Linked DNA regions of Homo sapiens: region 2 is linked to region 1. The links come from fine-mapping of genetic effects on gene expression. Tissue or cell type: aorta. Region 1 holds a variant in brackets; the other region holds the start of a gene. All regions are shown on one strand. Distances are between the middles of the regions.

The links. PIP is the estimated chance that this variant, and not a neighbour inherited with it, causes the effect. A credible set is the group of variants that fine-mapping cannot tell apart.
Region 2: it holds the start of MECOM-AS1, and the variant in region 1 is the best candidate, but not a certain one, in a credible set for the expression of MECOM-AS1 in aorta (GTEx, PIP 0.68).

The regions. Positions count from the first base shown.
Region 1 is chr3:169,475,290-169,480,676 of GRCh38, reverse strand. The region is part of intron 1 of MECOM (MDS1 and EVI1 complex locus); the gene reads left to right. MECOM-AS1 (MECOM antisense RNA 1) reads right to left here. Exons shown (of 5, transcript NR_134932.1): 5 at 3,625-3,791. Among named protein-coding and RNA genes, the nearest start is that of MECOM-AS1, 30 kb to the right of the region's middle. The variant A/G (reference allele first, on the strand shown) is at 2,189.
Region 2 is chr3:169,445,013-169,450,399 of GRCh38, reverse strand. It overlaps MECOM-AS1 (MECOM antisense RNA 1), which reads right to left and starts at 2,533. Exons shown (of 5, transcript NR_134932.1): 1 at 2,465-2,533. All of the region lies in intron 1 of MECOM (MDS1 and EVI1 complex locus), which reads left to right.

The DNA of each region.
Region 1 (5,387 bases):
TTACCAGGTCGCCCTATCATCAACCAACCAGCTTGGACAAACACAGCAGAGAACACTAAAGGATCCTATACTTTGACTAGTGGAAGGAAAAATGGCTGGTGATATAAAAGGCCAACTTATTTACGTAAAGAGGTATTATAAATGGTACGGGCAAAGTGACTAAAGAGATGAGAAAAAAAGTGGGAAAGAGAAGGAGAGGAATGGCAGCCACAGGGGAAGGGGTTGGGGGAGCAGTGGACTGAGAGCAGATGAGAAGGAGGAAGAGCAGTGTAGGGCCAGCGAGCCACCTGTATACACCTTGTAAATCCTTTTGTTCCTACTTCTGGGAAGTACTCCAGTAGTACTTGAAGAACTCAGATTGCAGTGTTGAAGGCAAGCTAGCAGGTAGAGCCCAATGCTTTGAGGTGGAGATTAGGATGGAAGGTATTCATGGGACAGTATATGTGATAAAGAAGCTCTTTCAATTAAATAAAAAGAAGACAGCACTAGCTTGCTTGAAAAAACACAATTATATTTGAATTCTTCACATGTCAATATGTTAGTCTTTGGCAACCTACAGAAAACCATCATCATACTTTTTTTATACCAATAGTGATGACTCCACTTTGACCAAAAGGCGAATCAATGTAGAAAAAAGTCCATTGTCTTCACTGTGGAAAGTACATCGAATCTGGAGTCAGATGGATTAGCATTCAGGCCTCTTGGTAGTTTTCTGATATTGGACAATTTACTTACTCTGTATTTGTTTCAGTTAAAAAATGGGGAATTTGTCTTAACATTTTTGTGAGTATTAAAATAAGAGATTTTAAAGGTGCCTGGCACAGTGCCTGGGACAGAGTATGTGCTCAATTATATTAGTCACGTTCCTGCCTTGTCAAGAGCTTTTCAGGTCCCTATAAGGAAAAGGCCATAAAATTTAGAAGACATTAGGCATGAGTTTTAGTGGTTATATCACCAAATGTGTCTGCTTTCTAAATTTGTGCCTGAGAATCAGGCAAATTTTTTTTTTTTTTTTTTTTTTTTTAGGTAAGAGAAAATCTGAAAATGAGACGTTTCATTCACCTCCATATCTTTACTGCTCAGACACATTGGCTGATATCTGCTTGGCTTTACTTCCAGTGCTTTCTCTAATTGCAGAGGCATGTGAAGGCCGTAATCTTTAGAAGAGCCTTCAAAGCCTTGCATGGTCTGGCCCTGCCTGTCTTTCCAGCCTCACCCTTGTGACCGTCTCCTCCACTGTCTATGCTCCAGCCACACTGGGCTTCATTCTTTCCTCCACCAACCCAAACTTTCTCCTTTCTTAGGGTCTTTGTTACCTCTGCTTGAGATACTGTTCCTAGACGCCTCCCTTTCCTTCTTGTTGCTGCTCATCTCTGTCTCTTGCACACACACACACACACACACACTCACATCCCTATCTATGTGAATTCCTACTTGCTTTATATCTCACCTTAAGTGTCACTTCCTGCCTGAGACCCTAGCGTATGTTAGATTTGCTGGTCAAAAGCTTTTCCAGCATTCCTCCTGCTACTTATCACATTTATGACTAATTAGTTATCTTGGTAGATGTTGGCTAATGTCTGTCTTTCTGGCTACAGTATTAGTAAAGACAGGGATTATGTTTGTCTGAATCACTACTGTGGCCCTCCCATTCAGTTCTATGCCTGGTACATAATAGGTGATCAACAAATATTTTGGTGAATAAATAATGCTAGATGCAGAAACAAATTAGTGACTACATCATTGTAGCATTACAAGATTGTGGAGTCCTACTGTGTTCCACATCAATAACTGCTGGCTCTGTATGGTTAATCTGTGCTCTCTGAATTGTAAAATGACCCAGTATGGTTAAAAATGGGCCTAAAATGACGTAAATGGTTTTTATCACAGAGGAACACCCCCAGATATTTGTTCACAAAGGAAGCTGGTTTAGCCTAGGAATTGGCATCCCTTCTCCTGTATAGTTTTTTTAAGCCATAATACTCAAGTCTATCAAATATCCTAGCACAATACACACAACCTTAGGGAAGTGGCAGGCACCAGTCGCTATTCCCGTGGGTGGTTAAGCCTTTGGTATCTGGGAACAACTGAAGGGTAGTAATTGGTGATACTTATTGTCTGAACATAACTCAATCTTGGCTTAGCTTGGGAAGTATTCGTACCCTCACTTGTGGGGGTGCTTGGCCAA[A/G]GGCAGAGGTGTCCCTATAGGTCACTCTGAGGCATTTTTATCTGCACAATAGCTATTAACAAGTAATGGGAAAAGTGGAGATAGGCTGGTTACTCTAGGTGGCTGTAAAACAAGTGTAGATAGGACACAAAGGAGCAGCAGAGTGAGTACACATGACAAAAACCATACCGCATATTGAATTCTGCCTTGACAATATCATTCTTCTACAGTTGTCAATATTAATACTTTTCTATAAGGAAATGGAATGACATTAATGATACATGCAACATCCTTTATGTAAAAATGCCCCAAATCCAAGAGCCTTCCAGAGCACCAGGAAAAGTTTCAGAGCCATTGGATGTCTCTCTTTGTCAGATGCCACGGTGTCAGGCTCCGAGCCATTTGTCATCCCTGAATTTCATTATCTGCTCCTTCCCTGTCTTTCATTCTCAGTTTGCTAGGACATTTGTTCACCGTTGACCTCCCTGACAAATAATACACCTTAATTATGTTGGCAAGAGGGGATATGTCATTCCTGGGCCACTTTAATTGTCTATCCGACAGGCATCCTGCTGTGGCATGTAGCTTCTGTGGTATTTTGACTGCAGTGGTAGGACTATCCTGTGCTTGCGCTTTGTCTAGAGATAGTCTCAACTTTTACAGGTTCTGAAGATAATATGTCTTATTGAAGCCGTGTATCACTTTTGTTTTGCAGTTGCTAAAACAAGCTCTCACATTAATTTGGTGGAAACAGTACAGATTGGCTATCTACAAGGTTTGCCTTGGAAAGCAAAAAAAAAGTCTGCATAAGGATTTAGAATGAAGTAAATACTGAAATAACTACAAAGGTTAAGAAGAAAGGTGTTTGGGCATATCAGGAAGCTCCACAAAGGAAAAACAGCTGACTGCAGCTCCAGGAGCAGGACGCAGAGCCTCTAGTTTAAGTCAGCTAATCCTTTGCAAGAAACAGAGAAGTGCTCTTGGCCAAAGATTAATCTTACAATTCCATTCTCACATAAAAATCCTGCAGCCTATAACAATCTTGACTTCGGGACTCAGAAAAAAATTCTCTTTTATACCTTGCAAGGATTTGGATCATTGATGGTCTTCATTTTGGCACTTGTTTGTGTTTACTCCAAGATTTTTGTGCAATTCTTTGCCCATGGGAGAATGACGGGGCGCAAAGATAAAAGCTGATGAGGGTCTCAGCAGCACTTCGAAGTTGTGGGAGCCAGTTACCATTTGGAGTTCTCCTTTGACAGGGGTAGATGCCTTAATTTGAAATGCCATTTAACTAGGAATCTACCTAGACCTTTGCAGTGTGAAGACTTCCTATTGCAAATGAAATTGTGTGTGTGTGTATATATATATATATATATATATATATATATATATATATATATACACACACACACACACACACACACATCTTACTTATCCAGACCTCTAGGCACATATTATGTCGCATGTAGGAGTTTATTAACATGAGTATTTCTAAAAAGAAAGCTATTTTATCCATAGCAGCAGGTAAAATTTTAGTTTGTTGGCACAGTCCGTTGTCTCATCTCTCTTTTCTTCTGCCTAACCTGTCTTTGCCGGTTTTCTCATCAGTGGAACATGTTGCCTGTGAGGTTAGGGGAGAAAAAGAAAAAAAAAAAGAACAGCATCAACAAAAAATAGCATCTTCTTCCACTCAACCTGCAAGGCTTCACAAGGGTAATCTCAAAGGTCACCTGGCTCCTGTTTTGGCCAAGAATATGTGGATTAGGGTCACAGGAGGGCGAGATTTTAATTTCACAAAAATATGTAAAGGGAAGGGGGAGAAGGGGGAGAAAAAAAAGATTACTTGCAGAGAGCATGAGTACCAAGGGAGGCATGCTTAGGTGACTAACGACACCTCTATCAGAAGAACAAACTCGATCTGCATCAAGCATTGAGACAGATGAGGCCAATTTCACACAGTAAATTTCTTGGCCATGATTGATGTGCCCCTGCCGCTGAATGTGAGCAAGCTCTCTCCGCACCTGTCAAGCACCGGGCAGACAGGGATCTATCAAAGCGTTATTGATGACTTTACACTGTACTCTGCAAATAAAATGTAATGGGCTAACTGGAACATAGATCTGAGTGATGTTACTTATATATTAAATATGTCACATCTGTAGAACAAATGGTGGTTAGATAAGAGTTATCATCTTCAGGGCTCAATAAATATTTTATCAAGCATAATGGAAATTGTCAAATCAATCTAATTGTGTAATACATTATGAAGACATCAAAATTAAACAAAGCACATATGCTATCATTTCATTTTATTAGTGGGCCACTGTTGTGCCCAGGAGGTCTTGTGGTGGTTGAAGGCTGGCAGAGTTAATACTATATATATGTTTCCCTTTCCTCTCCCTCTGCTGCTTATGGAACTGGCTAGATATTTCATCAAAGTATTAATTTCTCAAATGCAGACAACTTCAAGGCATAATTAGATTAGGGAGAACAAAGCTGCGAAAAGTGGCATCAAGCCACAAATTCACTTTAGCCATATTTAGAGCAAATATCTCTGTGCTTCCATTTCATTTTATTTATCTTTATCTGATTTTATACTGTTGCAATAAAAAAAAACCCAACATGAGCAAGAATTATCTTTGAGCCAGAGACATCCATGCTAGCTCCTAACTAGCAGCAACTGATGTTTCAAAATACCTTTGTCGTTTTTGTTATTGGTGGTTAAAAACCACTTGAGGTTTCCCTCCTCCTCCCCCTTTTTTTTTAATTGGCAAGCTAGGTACTTTACAAAGACTATGGAAAGGATTACAAAATCTGGCAAGACTGGCTTTGGCTTGGTGAATTTTAAATATGCATTTAAGGAATGATTGCGTCTTTCTTTTCTACCCGATTTAAGACAGCTATTAGATTCGGAAAAAAAAAAAACTTCGACTTTTTAGTCACTATTTTTAATGTGCTAAGGAAACATTACCATTTCATCCATGTGTCCATTAAAAGAAAGGGCAGCCCGTATTCCTGGCCTTAGAAATTCTCAGTTTGGCTTGTCACTGTGATCAAATTCAGTCCCAGGGTGCATAAGAGGAAGGTCATGAAACATCCTGTGCCCAGTTTTTCCAGAAGCAAAATGGGAATAACTTAAAAAAACACTTCAACCGTCTTGATAAAGTTGGGCCAGGGGACAAAGTTTGCTGCTTGTCAGGGTTAGAACTAAAATGGT
Region 2 (5,387 bases), 30 kb after region 1:
AAAATAACAAGAACTTTTGGAAGCTTTTTTAATTAGCACCTTGGAGTCTTTGGCTTTAGACTGCTGATTTGTTAATTCTTGTGGTGATTTTCTTCCTGGTGCTGTGTGTTTAAAGTACTAAATCGTGAATTTCCCGTACAGTCTTCAAAGCTTTTCACTCAAGTGGCCAAATAGGTTTACGTTAGTGTCTTGAGCATGACACATATTTCAGAAATAATATTTGTTCTGGCATAGCCTAATAACTATAAAATTGAGATGCAAACCAGAAAAAATTTCTTTAAAGTCCGTAATGCCATTTTAGAGGGAAATATTCTTTATTCCCTAGACAGAGTAAGAAGCTGCTCTTGTCCAAATTATGAGTTGTGAAACCTTCAGACATAAAAGAAAGCAAAATTGTTGACATGTTATTGGGACATAACTTTTCTCCCCAGTGTTTCTTTGTTGTAGAGAGAATAAGGAAAAGTAAAACAGCAGCAATCTTTCTACAATATTCTTACAGAGGAAAAAGAATTAGAGGGAATATGCTACCCAAGTTTACACCTGCTTTGTAATTCTTTGGTCTCCAGTTTGACACCATTAAGGAAAGTGAGGATTTCAGCCAATTACAGCTGATGGTTTCATTGTATTTCTTTTTTTCCGATGGTATCACATCCTATATTTCTTTACGTATTGTCTCAGACATACATGCATGTAGTTGGATAATGGGATATTCAACATAGCTTACCGCCACCTCACCAAATTATTAAGCTATTTCAAAACAAGAAATAATGCTGAGGGAAAATTTGTATTAGCTTGATTGATTATCTTATTTTAATCCATATTAAAGCTTTAAGTCTCTAGGCGTGGCTCTTTACTTCTAACACCTCATAAATTATAGCTATAATGAAGCAGTCATTTATCCTGAGCTGATGATAAATGGCTTGCCCTAGGAGGAACTAAAGAATAGGCAAGTAGATCATTTTCATATTTGGTGAAAACAATATTAAGTACCCAGACCTCAGTGATTGCCCTAATAAATGAATAATCTGAGGTGAGGGGCTTGGCAGTCAGTGTAAAAAATAACCTGAGCTTTCTCTGTCATTTGTCAGGCTTTGCTATGACAGCATGCATTATGGGTAAATGAGCAATCAGCAAGAACTATGTTATGGCTGGGATGTTTTTGAGAAATTTATCATATGCATTGCTTAGTACCTTAAGACCTTAAGGCTTAATGGCTATAGTGCATGACTGCAAGTGAGCACAGTTCCTATTTACCATGGTATGCTTCATTTGTGCTCCATCTCTCACCTTAAAGAAAGAAAAGACCTTTCGTGATTGAGCTTCATTTGGCTTTGCTTTCAAAATGTTAAGGTCTTTATATGATGTTCTCTCTGTTGACAGATACTACTCCTGGTAGATTGGCTACAGGAGATTTTGGAGTCGTGATTTCAAATAAAATTTCAGGGTCAAAAATTTATCATGGTATGGAGGTGTCAAAATCTGGATTCCAGTGTACCTGAAGCCAAATGTATTATGGAAAGTGACATTACCTCCTTATAATAGTATTAAATATTTAATGGTACTTAAGAATTAAATGATTTTCCACCCTCCTCAAACCACCGAACAGTTGATCTCTTTCATTTATTACGGAATTGGAAATAATCAAGAGTAGTTGAGATGTGAATGCTTCATTGGAATTATGCAATGTGTTATGACAATGTCTGACTCATTATGGTTTGCTGCCATATGCAGTGAAAAAGGAAATCAGGATGCAAACTCCTCTTCCCAGGCCAGGGGTCTCACATGCACACTCCTGTGGATGCTATTCTAAAATATTTGATTAAAGATAATGTGGCTTTACCAGTACCTCTCTTGCCATAATATCCCAAATTTACAGGTGCCTTTGAAGTTAGATGTACACTGAATTAAAAATCTGGCTTTACCCCTAGTTGGATAAATTTGTTTATTAGTTACTCTGAACATCATTTTACTCCTGTGTAAAATGGTGAAAACACTGTCTTGAAGGATTGTTGTGTGGCACAAATGAGATAATGTATAGAAGATGCTTAGCATGTGATGGGCGACCTATAAATAAATACTAAGTTAGTTCTATATCTTCTTAAAATCCTGGTCAGGCACCTAAGCATTCCCACAACGTATAACACGAGTGGCATTTTACAAGATATGGTAGCAAGGCTAGTTGCTCAGTATATTAGATCAAGGAGCTCATGAGACAAATTCAATTACATGAAAATATTTTTTGAATGTCTACTATAGGTCAGGTTCCAGTGATGACCTAAAGATCACCTCACCATTGGTTGCCATCATCACTATAATAGCTTCTAATTTCTCCCCTCTCCTAGCTCTCATCCATAGCAGTTTCCAGTTGAATTTCCAAACTACAGATCTGATCACACCATGACTCCTAGTTGCCCAGCCATTTAGCACCACAAACAAGGGTTTAAATAATACACTTCTGACTTACCATTTCAGCTTCATTTCTTGCCTTCTCTTTTATGCCTATATTCCAGCTATGCAGAGTTACTCACCAATCTTTCATTTGTAGGTCACATTTGTGCTTTTTCTTTGCCTAGAATGTACTTCCTTCCACTCAACTGTCTTGGCATGGCCAAATCCTTGTTCGAGATGTATTTCAAATTTGAGCTCTGGTGTGTAGCCTTTCCAGTCTTTCCAGGTGGAGATGGTTTTTCTTCCTCTTAGTTGTTTCCTGAATACTTTGTGTGTAATAAACCACTCATCATGTTGTGCTGTAAACATCTGTTTGTGTGCTCTGCTTCCCACTATGGATTCCTTGAAGACAGTGACAGAGTTGACATTTTTACTTCTAGAAATTAACATGGTACCTGGAACACAGTAGACGCTTTATAAAGGTACTTTGTAAACATAAGAATCAATGAGAAAGGTATGATTCTGCCTTTCTTTGGACATCTCAAACTCAGAGTCAGAAAAGTTCTTGGTGGGGGGAGATAGTAGATAACCATCCACCTCTTCTTGTGATCTTAACCTACAAAGCCTCACATCCTGCATTATTCATCTGTTCCCTCCCCCAGTCAACTAAAATTTACAAAATGCCTGCTTTGCCTGGCCACCTTCTAGCTACTGAATGAGAAGGTGCATTTTTATAGGAGAAGATGGAGGTGGAGCAGGAGAACTCTAGGGCATGGGTGGCAGAGGGCACCAATAAGACTTAATTCTTCCACCCTTGGGAATTGTAGACATCTTCACAAGGGGTCAAGAAATTGGGTGGTTCAGAGCAATTTCTTTTACATCTCAAGGATGAGGACGACTTGAACTAATGTAGAATCTTCTAGATTGTAGATAAAATGAAGGAGTTGGATTTCAATATTTTACAATGAGGATCCCTTTTCATAACATAAAAAATTCTTAGACCTGTAAGTATTTATTTGTTGACAAAATTATACTGAAAAAAATAACTGAAAATTCAGTAACTGTTAATTAATTTTCCACTTAGTGAACCACAATGGCATGTGCAGGGAGTGCCTAAAGCTTGGTGCACCCCCTGAACAAGCCATCCTGATAGGGATGAGGGCAGTAGCACTGCATAGTCATTAGGAGCATGGGCTTTTGAATCAGGCAGACTTGGGTTCAAATCTTGGTTCTGACACCAGGTATATGATCATGAGAAGCTCTCTCAGTCTTTATTTCCTTAACTGAAAAAACAGTAATAGTGACCTCACAGTGGGTGCAGGTGTGGGATTTAAGATAATAAAGGTAGATAAAGATAACGCACAACACACATAACTACTACCCACTTAATTATCAGGAAAGGGAGGGTAGCTTAGCAAGTTCTATGATGTAAACTCAGGGCAAGGTGGCTCTGTGGAAGACCAGGCTTATTTGTGTAGCGTGGAGAGTGTCTGTATTAGTTCGGTTTTATGCTGCTGATAAAGACATATCTGAGACTAGGAAGAAAAAAAGGTTTAATTGGACTTACAGTTCCACATGGCTGGGGAAGCCTCAGAATCATGGCAGGGCAAGTGGCAAGAGAAAATGAGGAAGAAGCAAAAGCGGAAACTCCTGATAAACCCATCAGATCTCGTGAGACATAGTCACTATCATGAGAGTAGCAAGGGAAAGACTGGCCCCCATGATTCAATTACCTCCCCCTGGTTCCCTCCCACAACACGTGGGAATTCTAAGAGATACAATTCAAGTTGAGAGTTGGGTGGGGACACAGCCAAACCATATCATTCCACCCATGGCCCCTCCAAATCTCATGTCCTCACATTTCAAAACCAATCATGCCTTCTCAATGGTCCCCCAATGTCTTAACTAATTTCAGCATTAACTCAAAAGTCCACAGTCCAAAGTCTCATCTGAAACAAGGCAACTCCCTTCCACCTATGAGCCTGTAAAATCAAAAACAACCTAGTTGCTTCCTAGCTACAATGGGGGTACAGGTATTAGGTAAATACAGCCATTCCAAATGGGAGAAACTGGCCAAAACAAAGGGGTTACAGGGCCCATGCAAGTCCAAAATCCAGTGGGGTAGTCAAATTTAAAGCTCCAAAATGATCTCCTTTGAATCCAGGTCTCACATCCAGGTTACACTGATGCAAGAGGGGGTTCCCATGGTCTTGGGCAGCTCTGCCCCTGTGGCTTTGCAGGGTAGAGCCTCTCTCTTGACTGCTTTTATGGGCTGGCACTGATTGTCTGCAGCTTTTCCAGGTGCACAGGGCAAGCTGTCGGTGGATCTACCATTCTGGGGTCTGGAGGATGGTGGTCCCCTTCTCACAGCTCCACTAGAAAGTGTCCCGGTAGGGACTCTGTGTGGGGGCTGTGACCCCACATTTCCCTACTGCACTGCCCTGGCAGAGGTTCTCCATGAGGGCCCCGTCCCTGCAGCAAACTTTTGCCTGGGCATCCAGGCATTTCCATACGTCTTCTAAAATCTAGGCAGAGGTTCCCAAACCTCAATTCGTAACTTCTGTGTACTCACAGGCTCAATGCCACTTGGAAGCTGCCAAGATTTGGGGCTTCCACCCTCTGAAGCCACAGCCCAAGCTCTATGTTTGTTCCTTTCAGCCATGGCTGGAGTGGCTTGGACACAGGGCACCAAATTCCTAGACTACAAACAGCATGGGGACCCTGGGCCCACCCACAAAACCACTTTTTCCTCCTGAGCCTCCAGGCCTGTGATGGGAGGGGCTGCCATGAAGGTCTCTGACATGGCCTGGTTACATTTTCCCCATGGTCTTCCTACTTATGCAAATTTCTGCAGTTGGCTTCAGTTTCTCCTCAAAAAATGGGTTTTTCTTTTCTACTGCATCATCAGGCTGCAAATTTTCTGAACTTTTATGCTCTGTTTACCTTTTAAAATGGAATGCTTTTAACAGTACCCAAGTCACCTCTTGAATGCTTTTCTG